Linked DNA regions of Homo sapiens: region 1 is linked to region 2. Evidence: fine-mapped expression QTL. Tissue or cell type: whole blood. Region 2 holds a variant in brackets; the other region holds the start of a gene. All regions are shown on one strand. Distances are from middle to middle. Region 1 holds the start of GOLM1 (golgi membrane protein 1). Region 2 overlaps LOC101927623 (a long non-coding RNA gene).

Region 1 (5,379 bases), 32 kb after region 2:
TTTCTCCCTTTGGGAATGTGAATACCTATACTGTGCCTGTGCCACCATTGTATTTTGGAAGTAAATAATTTGTTTTAATTTCACAGGCTCATTGCTGGAGGAATTTGTCTTAGGATGAATTGTGCCTTGAATCTTGCTCATATCTGATTTAGATGAGACTCTGGACTTTCTAGTTGGTGCTAGAGTGAAGACCTTAGGGCTGCCAGGTGCAGTGGCTCATGACTGTAGTCCCACCACTCTCGAAGGCTGAGGCAGGTGGATTGCTTGAGCCCAGGAGTTTGAGACCAGCCTGGGCCACATGTCAAAACCTCATCTCTACAAAAAATACCAAAAAAATTAGCTGAGCATGATGGCATACACCTGTAGTCCCAGTTACTCAGGAGGCTGAGGTGGGAGAATCACCTGAGCCCAGGAGGTTGAGGCTGTAGTGAGCCATGATCACACCACTGCACTTCTGCCGGGGGGACAGAGTGAAACCCTGTCTCAAAATAAATAAATAAATAAATAAATATTAAAGCCTTTAGGGCTGTTGGGATGGAATAAATGTATTTTGTATGTGAGAAGGATATGAACTGGGGGTGGTGGGGGGCATAGAAGCAGAATGCTATGGTTTGAATGTGTGCTCCATAAAGCACGTGTTGAAAACTGAATCTCCAGTGCAACAGTGTTGGGAGGTGGGGCCCAAAGGGAGGTGTTTAGGTCATAAAGGCTCCACTCTTATAAATAAATTAATGCCAATTATAGAGGGTTTGAGGCTGCAAGTTCAATTTCACATACACCCTCTTGCCCTTCTGCCTTCCACCACAGGCTGATGCAGCAAGAAGGCCCTTGCAAGATGCCAGCACCTTGATATTAGACTTCCTAGCCTTCAGAACTATGAGAAATACATTTCTTTTCTTTATAAATTACTGAGTCTGTGGAATTGTGTTATAGCAACACAAAATGGACTAAGACATTAAGGAAAGGATGCTTAACAGGCAAAACATGGATGCTTCCTTCAACCAACCACTGTAGCCCCTTGCACATTGTTTAATCAAAACCCATCCAATTGAATTTTCAGGGCCAGCAACTGATTAGCTTTTTTATAAGGAATGTAAATTATGTATATAGATATATATAAAACTGCATCTTAAAATTTTCAACTTTTGTCATAAAGAATCTAACGAAAAGGACTAATTCATCTTCAATTAAAATATAGCTCATTCAGCCAGCTGCCTTAGCACCTAGACATATGGACCTGTTCCATAAAGTGTTTAAGAATCACTGAGTGAGTCGCTAATTAGTTGCTGATAAATGAGAGACTAATGGAGACCCTCCTTAGAGCCAAATGATATAGAAGTTACAGTCCACCAGTCTAAGAATGTAAACTATACTAAGAGAGCTAAAATGGGCAAGAAAGGGAATTTCCTGTACCTGTCCCCGATTATGGTTATTTAAGCTCACTAGAAGATCAAAGTGACACAACTTAAGTCTGCAAAACCAGGGCTGACATCTGATACAGCCTCAGCTTCTGAATGCTTTGGTCTGACCCTACAACAGTTTAACAGTTGCAGATAACAAAAATATCATTTTGGAATATAGTAGAACATTCCTCTAAAGGGGTCATGTATGGTCAGCTTCTAATTCAGCTAAGAGGTTTTAGCTGGTAAAGATACGTTTCCTGCAGTTAAGAAGCTCCATGCTCAGGTAGCAATAGGGTATCTTGATCACCTTTTTTAAGGTGACTCTTTGTTCTGGTTAAAATCAATTTCAGCTGTGAGCATTCCTTTAGGTGTTCATGTATTTACTTGTTTTTTTATTGTGATTTGAGAGAGGCGCAGAGGAAGGAGTTTCCTTTCCCAGACACCAGAGCTAGGAAGACATGAAGACATGATTCTAGGAAAACTGTTCTCAATCTTGGCCGTATACTGTATTAGGATTATCTGGGAAGCTCAAAACAAACAAAAAATATCAAGTTCACTTTGAACTCTGGAAGTGGGACCCTGGTTCCTAAATGCTCTAAAAGCTCCCCAAATAATTCTAATGGATGGCAGGTGCTGCCAGAGTTAAGAACCATTGCTTTAGAATTTTCTAGCATGGTTTCCCTGTAGGTCACTAGTTTTGTGGCATTCTCTCCGGGAGGTACGGCCTCATAGGGCTTCTCAAACATCAGTGCGCCTGAGCGTCATCTGAGGCGCTGTTTCAAATGCAGCTGCCCGGGCTATAAGATCACACCCGAAGGCGTCCGGGAATCTTCACTTTTTCCGTTGCTAGCAGTGGAAGGGTCACAGACCAAACACTAAGGCCTGAGCGGTGACAACCGAGGCGAGATGATGGTCAACAGGGAATGCCTCGTGGGAGAAAAAAGACAATTTTGTGAGTATAAGCCCCCTAAAAACCTGTTTTTCGTTCGCTTCCTTCTCTGGGCAGTTTTGACCCGACGACTTTTATAAAGAAGGTAACGTGAGTGTGGCGCTGGGTGCGGTTGGCTGTTCGGGAACATTCCCTCGGGGCGGAACGTGGGATGGGGGCTCCCCCCAGGTACCCTTTCCCCACAGCCGCTTCCCCGCTCCGCGTCGCTGCTCAGGCGCCAGCTCCCGCGTCGGAAGGGGCGATGGGGTGGCCCGGGGGAAGGGGCAACGCCCAGCGGCGAGAACTGGGCGCACGCTGGCGTTCCTGCTCCCGCCGAGGGGCGGCCACCGGCCGGGGCGCGCGCACCGTGGGGCCGGGAGTCCGCGCGGCCCCGGCAGCCCCTGCCTCGCTTCTCCGCGCTCGCGGCGCCGCCTCCTCCCTTCGCGCCGCCGGCGCTGCTCGGGGGCGGGGCCTTGCCGCTGCGGAGGCCGGAGACGCGGCGGCGCTGGACGCGGAGGCGCTGGGCGCACGGCGCGGAGCCGGCCGGAGCTCGAGGCCGGCGGCGGCGGGAGAGCGACCCGGGCGGCCTCGTAGCGGGGCCCCGGATCCCCGAGTGGCGGCCGGAGCCTCGAAAAGAGGTGAGTGGGCGGCGCGCGGCCCCAGGCTGCCCGAACCGCGGTCCATCGCTTCCTCCCTCCTTTGCCCAGGGCCCGTACCCCGCGCGCCGAGACCTCGCGTCGGTCCCCGGAGCCTCCCCGCGGCTTGCGCCGGGGCTGCAACCTTCGCTGGCTGCGCTCGGGGCTGGCTCCGCACCTTCCTGCACCGAGTAGCCCGCGGCTGCCTGGGCCCCTCGGCTCGCTCCCCAAGACCGGGCGCGCGGCCCCCTTGCCCTGCGATGAGGGGCCTCGCGAGGATTCCCTGCCCTGCAGTCTCAGGCGATGCGGGGCCTGTCTTTTTGTTCTGAGCTTTGTCACGCGCGTCGGCATCCAAAGTCAAAAGCGTGCACCCCCTAAGTCGCACTAGTTCCAGTTCTGCAGCGTGATTTGCACCAGGCGCGGGAGGCTGGCCGAGCCGCGAGTCTCTCGGCTCCCGCCGCCTCTTCCTCCCCTCCAGCCCCAGGCGCGCTCCGGCCGCCCTGGGGTCCACGTTGCCGCTGGGCCTCGTGGCTGGTGACCCCGGAGCTTGGGCTCCGGGTCCTCCCGCCGCGCGTCCAGAGCGCGGCTGCATCCCGTTCTCGTGGATGCTCGGGGTTTTCTCGCATACCTGTGTTTCCACCTTTGCCAACGTGGAGGATCCACACAACTTTGCCCTGCTGTAAAAATCATATCCCATTTAATATTTTTAATGATTTGCTTTTAAGAAACAAAATGTGAAGAATAACAATTTTGATGAAATTTTTTAGCAAAATTTAAGAATTATTATATTTGAAATACCATGATGATGCTGGACAATTTCAGATGTCCCATAGCCAGATTTGCAAAACTAAACTTGTGTGACTTTCACGATTTTGAGGTTTTCTTTGTCTGATTTGGGGTCCCTAGGCCCTACATTATGCACATTATTGAGGAACATTTCTAGGGCTGGATTAGTGAGATACACAATAACCTGATGAAGTATTTAGCAGCGCTTGAGTGGCTTTGTTTAGCTCATGGCCATCAGGTTGGCTCAAATCTCAGTTTTAGTATTTCTGAATTTTGGAGGGCATGGGACAATCTCTTGTCAGTTTTTGTGGGTCTCCAAAGGCATCCTAGCTTCTTCCAGTTGTGTTATAAAAGATGAAGCTAAGCTCATTACTTTCTTTCTTAATAGAAACTAGTAACTTGCTAAGACTTACTGTTTTTAGGCCAGACACTCAATTCTTAAGGTGTCAGTGAACAAAAATTGAATTGTTAGGATGGTTAAAGAAAAGAGGTTAGCTTTTAAGATACATTTTGTTCTCCTATGGAGAGGTTATCCAATTTTCACATTTTTTTTTAAAGTTGGTTTTACAGGAAAACGAAAGAAATGAGAGGAAAGTAGTGCTGAGGGTGGGGCCAGGAAATTGTGGTGACTTGGATATTAAGGGCCAGGGATACCATCTGCTTTCTAATGGCTGGTTTAGGTCCAGTTATTGATGGGAAATGAAAAGATTTTGCATTTACATTCCACCCGCTGTTGTTGTTGTTGTTGAGGGCTGGGCAGAAACAACAGTTAGGACAGCTGACCATAGCAGGCCCAGGGCTACCCGGGTTTATATATATATGGCCACCTTCCCCAGGAAGGAGGGAACTGCTACCCTTATCCTGTGAAAGTGCGAGCTGGCTTTCTGCATTGGAAGTACAGAGGGCAGAACCTGGGGAAAATGCGTCTGCGTGGATCAGTAGGAAGGGTGGAGCATCACTTTAGGCAGGTGTGCTGAGAAGAAGACAGGTGTCAGTTGATGGGCACTATTGGTGGGAGGGAGCTTGAAGGCAGCGTGGTCCCTGAGGTCCAGCCGCCTTTCTCAAAGGACCTGGGGTGGCCATTGGGGGCGGGGGAGCGGTGTTCTGTGCCTTTGGCTTAAATTCTGCAGCATTATTGTTATTACTTGTTTTTTCTTGAAATAAAAAAAAAATAAGTTGCCCTATGAAAAAAGATACATTTCTTTTTCAGTGACGTAATGTGAGAAATAACATTTGTAATTGGGATTTTTTAAAAGCACTTCTGTTTTTGTAAAACAAAACAATTTTTTAAACATTTGTAAAAAAGTAGAAGGAACAGAAGGAATGGTGCTACTATGCTTTTGCTCTCACCTTAGAAAAGGGCGAATGATATTTCACTTGCTCCCCAAAAACTGTTCTTAAAGATCATGGTGGTTTTCTGGACTTCTCACGTTATTGATGAAGTTACATTAAAAGAGAGACTTGTCTCCAAATTTATGAAGTGTTTCTTAAATTTCCAGAGAGTCTTTCCTTTCTTTCACACAGATATTTCTCACACTTTCAGGAAAAAAAAAAAAAAAAGTCCATGCCTTCTCAGATTTTTACATTTTGGTCTTATTTTCCTTTAAAACCCTTAAGCACTTTATTA
Region 2 (5,379 bases):
GCCACTAATTTCAATGACAAGAGTCCATTTCTAACATTCCTCATATAAAGCCTTTAGGGCTAGCAGGGATAGCTTCTCAGGTACTTACAGTAGCTGCTGTGGGAATGTGGCCTTTCTGGTTAAATACTAGCTGATCACCTTTAGAATGCAAATTCTTCTTAAATAAAATTTCGATTTAAATAACAAATGAGAATGTAAGCTCCACAAAGGCCAGAATTTCTGTCTGTTTTGTTCATTGCAGCGTCTAAAATAATGCCTGATGAATAGTGAGGGCACAAATATTGGTTGAATGAGTAAATATCACGCTGATTTTGCTGAAGTATTTAAGCAAGTTACAGACATTGTAAAAATAAATGTTTTGGGACGGACGCGGTGGCTCACGTCCGTAATCCCAGCACTTTGGGAGGCCGAGGTGGGCAGATCACGAGGTCAGGAGATCGAGACCATCCTGGCTAACACGGTGAAACCCCGTCTCTATTAAAAACACAAAAAATTAGCCGGGTGTGGTGGCGGGCGCCTGTAGTCCCAGCTGCTCCGGAGGCTGAGGCAGGAGAATGGCGTGAACCTGGGAGGCGGAGCTTGCAGTGAGCCGAGATCGCACCACTGCACTCCAGTTTGGGCAACAGAGCGAGACTCCGTCTCAAAAATAAATAAATAAATAAAATAAAAATAAAATAAATGTTTTGGCCACAAGCATACTTACTGTAACAGTAATAAAAAATATGCTTGAACTACATACTCCTTAATTTTAGGGGGCTCAAGAGTTTAAAGGAAAGGGGGAGATATCCAAGTAAGAGAGCATGCATGCTAACTTTCCAATAGCTGGATGTTATCTACTTTTCTTAAGACTATATCAACCTGTTGATCATGACCTGTCTTTTCATAAGAGTCCCACTTAATCTAAAAATTAGGCTGGAACTTAGAGCCAATAAATACATTATGGGCCTGCATTTCCTGTATATCTTTTGTATTATAGCCTCCATGCCGTCTAAGAGCACTTTGTTCCTTCTCTCAAAATGCTTCCCCGCTTTTAAATAATTTACTTTTGAATTAATAAAAACATCACCTTATTAATCATCATATTATTTGCATCATATTAAACCCTGATCAGCCCTTAAAATGTTAAAGAAAAGACATTACTATGTTTCTTAATGAATACACAAAATCCTTCAGTACAAATACTTTTATATTCAGCCCCTGTAAAACCATCAGCTGTTGGAAACGTTTTTAAACATGAACCAAAGGGTCTAGTTTTAACAACTTAGCTATGAGTGGGTGAAATCCTACCCATTTCATAGAGTTCTCCAAATTAATAACAATATATATTAGTCTATTCTCACGCTGCTATAAAGAACTGCCTGAGAATGGGTAATTTATAAAGAAAAGAGGTTTAATTGACTCACAATTCCACAGGGCTGGGGAGGCCTCAGGAAACTTACAATCATGTTGAAAGTGGAAGCAAATATGTCCTTCTTCACATGGCAGCAGGAAGGAGAAGAATGAGAGACAAGCGAAGGGGGAAGCCCCTTATAAAACCATCAGATCTCATGGGAACTCATTCACTGTCACGAGAACAATTACCTCCACCTGGTTCCACCCTTGACACATGGGGATTATTACAATTCAAAATGAGATTTTGGATGGGGACACAGCCAAACCATATCACAGTGTAAAATAAAAGGATGGTCCCTTAGAGCTTTGAAATTCTTCTACTGACAGTCCTATCTTCTTTATTCAAGAAGTATGTAGTCATTTTCAGAATTCACTCCAGGGCCAACTTCTTAATGTAGATGTCAGTAAATCAGTGATGGCAAAAGGTATGCAAAGAAGAAAACCACATCAGAAAGGATGCAAAGCCAGAGATCCAACCAGCCGGGGTGTTGGGGAAGCCCGTTTGCCCCGGACTGAGGCTGCACATCGAGGTTCTGCTGCTATCTCCCAGCCTTGCTCAAGCCTTGCCACTTCCAGGGACCATCTCAACCATCTACAACCGGTGCGGCCACCTTCATCTCACTGCAACTTCGTTGCAACCCTAGTCTCTGTCTTATTTTGACGAATGTCAGCATTTGCTGTTTTCTTCTCCATCCAAATACAAAGCTGTTCACTTCTTCTCCTGGTCTCATTTTCCACGCTTGTTCAGCTTTCTCCCTTGTTGGATTTTCCCTACTGCCTTCAATAATCATAGATGTACATACAGTGGATATCTATGTATCTGATGGCTGGAAATTCTAGAGTACTAACATTTGCAAACAGTGATAAAAGCTGGAATTTATTTTGAAGGGAAAATTTCCATCAGTTCAAGGAGGAATCACATTGGTGAGCCCTTTTAGTCACATGGATATAAATGAAGCTTCTACACAAAAGTAGGTGCTGTCTACTGAGACATTAAGCATGCACTGTAATTGGTATGTTTTGAAAGGCCATCCTTGTTATGGACTGGCATGGCTCTGCAGAGATTACTGGGTTGTTTAGCAATTTTGGAGGGTGGGCCAGAGAGTAGCAGAATGAGAGAGGGGGACTCCTAAGGAAGAAGGAGAGGTGCTGGCCCCAGCATTGCAGTAGCAGGAAAGGGGGAAGAAGGGATAAGTACCCCTGAAGAGACATGGCCCACTGACTTCCAGAGCTAGGATATCTGATGTCCAGTGTTAAACTTTTCTTTTCTGTATTTTTAGTTTGTGAGTGGAGTTGGTTATAGCTAACAATGTTGTATTCTTGGTGCCTTAGGGGAAAAAGAGAAATAAAGGCCTGTGCCCCTACTTTGGAAGGAAGCAAACCCATTGTATCAGTGAGACAGCCACAATATCAGTAAGGATTAGGTTCACTTGCAAGTGAAAGGTAATGGAATATGACAACATTTCAATAATGTAAACAAAGTCCAAAGTCAAACAGCCTAGGACTGGTGTGGGGACTCCATGACCATCAGGAACCTGGGGTCCTTTTATTCTGTTGCTCCACCATCTTCAACATGTCACATCCACCTAGGGTCCAAAATGACTACCTGACTGACAGCTGCCAGGTCACATTCTCAGGAAGGGGGAAGGCAGTGAAGAAGGTTACTCCCCCATGTTTGAGGGATAGCTCCTCAAGCCCCACATGATATCTCCATATCTAATTGACCAGAACATACTCCCATGACAGCATCTAGCTGCAACAGAGGCTGGAAGATGTAATTTTTATTTTGGATGCCCA[T/C]GTGTTCAATTAAAAACCAGAAAAACCAGAAGTTCTATTAGTACAGAAGGGAAGACTGATGTCAGCACTGTGGTATACATAGTAATCCCCCTCCCCCAGAGTGTTCATGCCCTAATCCCAGGACCTGTGAATATGTTATTTTACATGGCAAAAGGGACTTTGCAGGAGTGATTAAAATATGTATCTTGAGATGGGGAGATTTTCTCATATTATCTGGTGGACCCAATGCCATCACATGAACCCTTAAAAGCAGAGAATGCTTCCTGGCTGTAGTCAGAGGGAAACATGATGACAGAAGGAAGGAACAAAAAATGCAACGTTGCTGGCTTTAGCAAATGGAAGGGGACCCTGAGCCAAGGCATACAGGTGCCCTCTAGAAGCTGGAGGAGGTAAAAGACCAGATTCTTCCCTAGAGGCTTCAGAAGGAATACAGTCTTGCTGACGCCTTGATTTGAGCCCAGTGAAACCCATGTCAGACTTCTGACCTACAGAATTGTAAGATAATAAATTTGTGTTGTTCTAATCCACTAAATATGTGGTAATTTATTATAGCAGCGTAGGAAACTAAATCAGGCATACAACCTGCATTCAGAGTCTCTGCTACAGCCATGCAGGCATCAGAGTTATCCAGGGATGGCCAGAGGCGGGAGAAACCCAGAGCACACATCCACAGCAAGAAGTGGAAAACAACAACAAATGAATGTATAGAAATTCGCAGACTCACCAGGATCCTTAGAAGTGATCCCGGGCTTTCTGAAGAATGAGGCCTGCATTGTTACTATTTAAGTATTAAAGGAAAGGATGACTCTCCCTTCTTGCATAATGCAAAGCTAGTTATATTACCCCCTCTCATCCTCAAAATCTGTATTCTTAGACAGAGAACTGTGGCAGGAAATAGATGTTAACTATCTAAAGAACGCGGGTGGTGTGGTGGGAAGCTAAGGCTAAAGGACCCAGATTTCATCCATCCATCCATCCATTCATTCATTCAGTACCTACAGAGTATTTATAAAGTCTGGAAACAGATTTTACAAGTTGCAGATGTCCTTGATGACACTGTGCACGTTTGCCTATGTGTTCAGACTTTGTGGACATCTTGCTGTGTGCCCAAGAAAGCGGTGAAGCAGAGAGTTGGGGGCCTGCCTGCAAGGAGCTTACAGTCTACCAGGAGGGCAAACAACTAACTGAGTGATGGCTCAAGAGAAGGAGGAGCTTCACATGACGGATGCATGCTCACTAGTTCAGAACATGGCTCAGCACTTACTATAGTCTGACCTTGAGCAAATTTTTTTTTTTTTTTTTTTTTTAGATGGAGCCTTCCTCTGTCACCCAGGCTGGAGTACAGTGGCACAATCTCAGCTCACTGCAACCTCCACCTCCCGGATTCAAGCAATTCCCTGCCTCAGCCTCCCAAGTAGCTGTGATTACAGGCATCTGCCACCACGCCTGGATAATTTTTGTATTTTTAGTAAAGATGGGGTTTCACCATCTTGGCCAGGCTGGTCTTGAACTCCTGACCTCATGATCCACCCGCCTCAGCCTCCCAAAGTGCTGGGATTACAGGTGTGAGCCACTGCACCCAGCTGACCTTGAACAAATTACTTCTCTGTGCCTTTATTGTAGAAAACAACTTCTAGAATTGTTGCTAGGATTCAATGAGTTAACACACACATAGAACAGCTCCTAGCACATAATAAGCAGCTAAATACTTATTAGCTACTACTATAATTGGTACCAGCCATGTGACCTGGAGAGTGGGCTTCATTTCCTCATACCTCCCGGGGTCTGCCAGGTCAGATGCAATAATGGGTGTAAAAGACATTTATGTACTGTTAAGGTACATCACAAAATGTATAGTATCATCACCACAGATTTAGTTACTTCTAATGTTGATTGTTTACTGTCCCTACAGGTAAGCTTACAATGTAGGAATCTTTTTGTCTTCTGTCACTGATGCATCCTGACCTCCAAAAACAGTGCCTGGTACATAAAGCACTCAATAGAGAGTTGTTGAATTTCTTGAATGGATCAATAAATTAATGAACAACTAAATAAGTGATCCTGGCTGTCTGAGTCAGTTCAAATGGCCATAACAAAATATCACAGATTAGGTGGCTTAAGAAACAGAAATTTATTTCTTACTCTCCTGGAGGCTGAAGTCCAAAATCAAGGCACTGGCCATTTTGGTCC

What was found.
Region 1: GOLM1 starts here. The variant in region 2 is fine-mapped to the expression of GOLM1 in whole blood (INTERVAL, PIP 0.91).

What each region holds. Positions count from the first base shown.
Region 1 is chr9:86,097,001-86,102,379 of GRCh38, reverse strand. It overlaps GOLM1 (golgi membrane protein 1), which reads left to right and starts at 2,822. Exons shown (of 10, transcript NM_016548.4): 1 at 2,822-2,969. RefSeq lists silencers at 2,611-2,930, 2,941-3,040, 3,201-3,250 and an enhancer at 2,881-3,381.
Region 2 is chr9:86,129,281-86,134,659 of GRCh38, reverse strand. LOC101927623 (a long non-coding RNA gene) reads right to left here. Exons shown (of 5, transcript NR_110996.1): 2 at 5,332-5,379. It also overlaps the pseudogene LOC100287212. Among named protein-coding and RNA genes, the nearest start is that of GOLM1, 32 kb to the right of the region's middle. The variant T/C (reference allele first, on the strand shown) is at 3,190.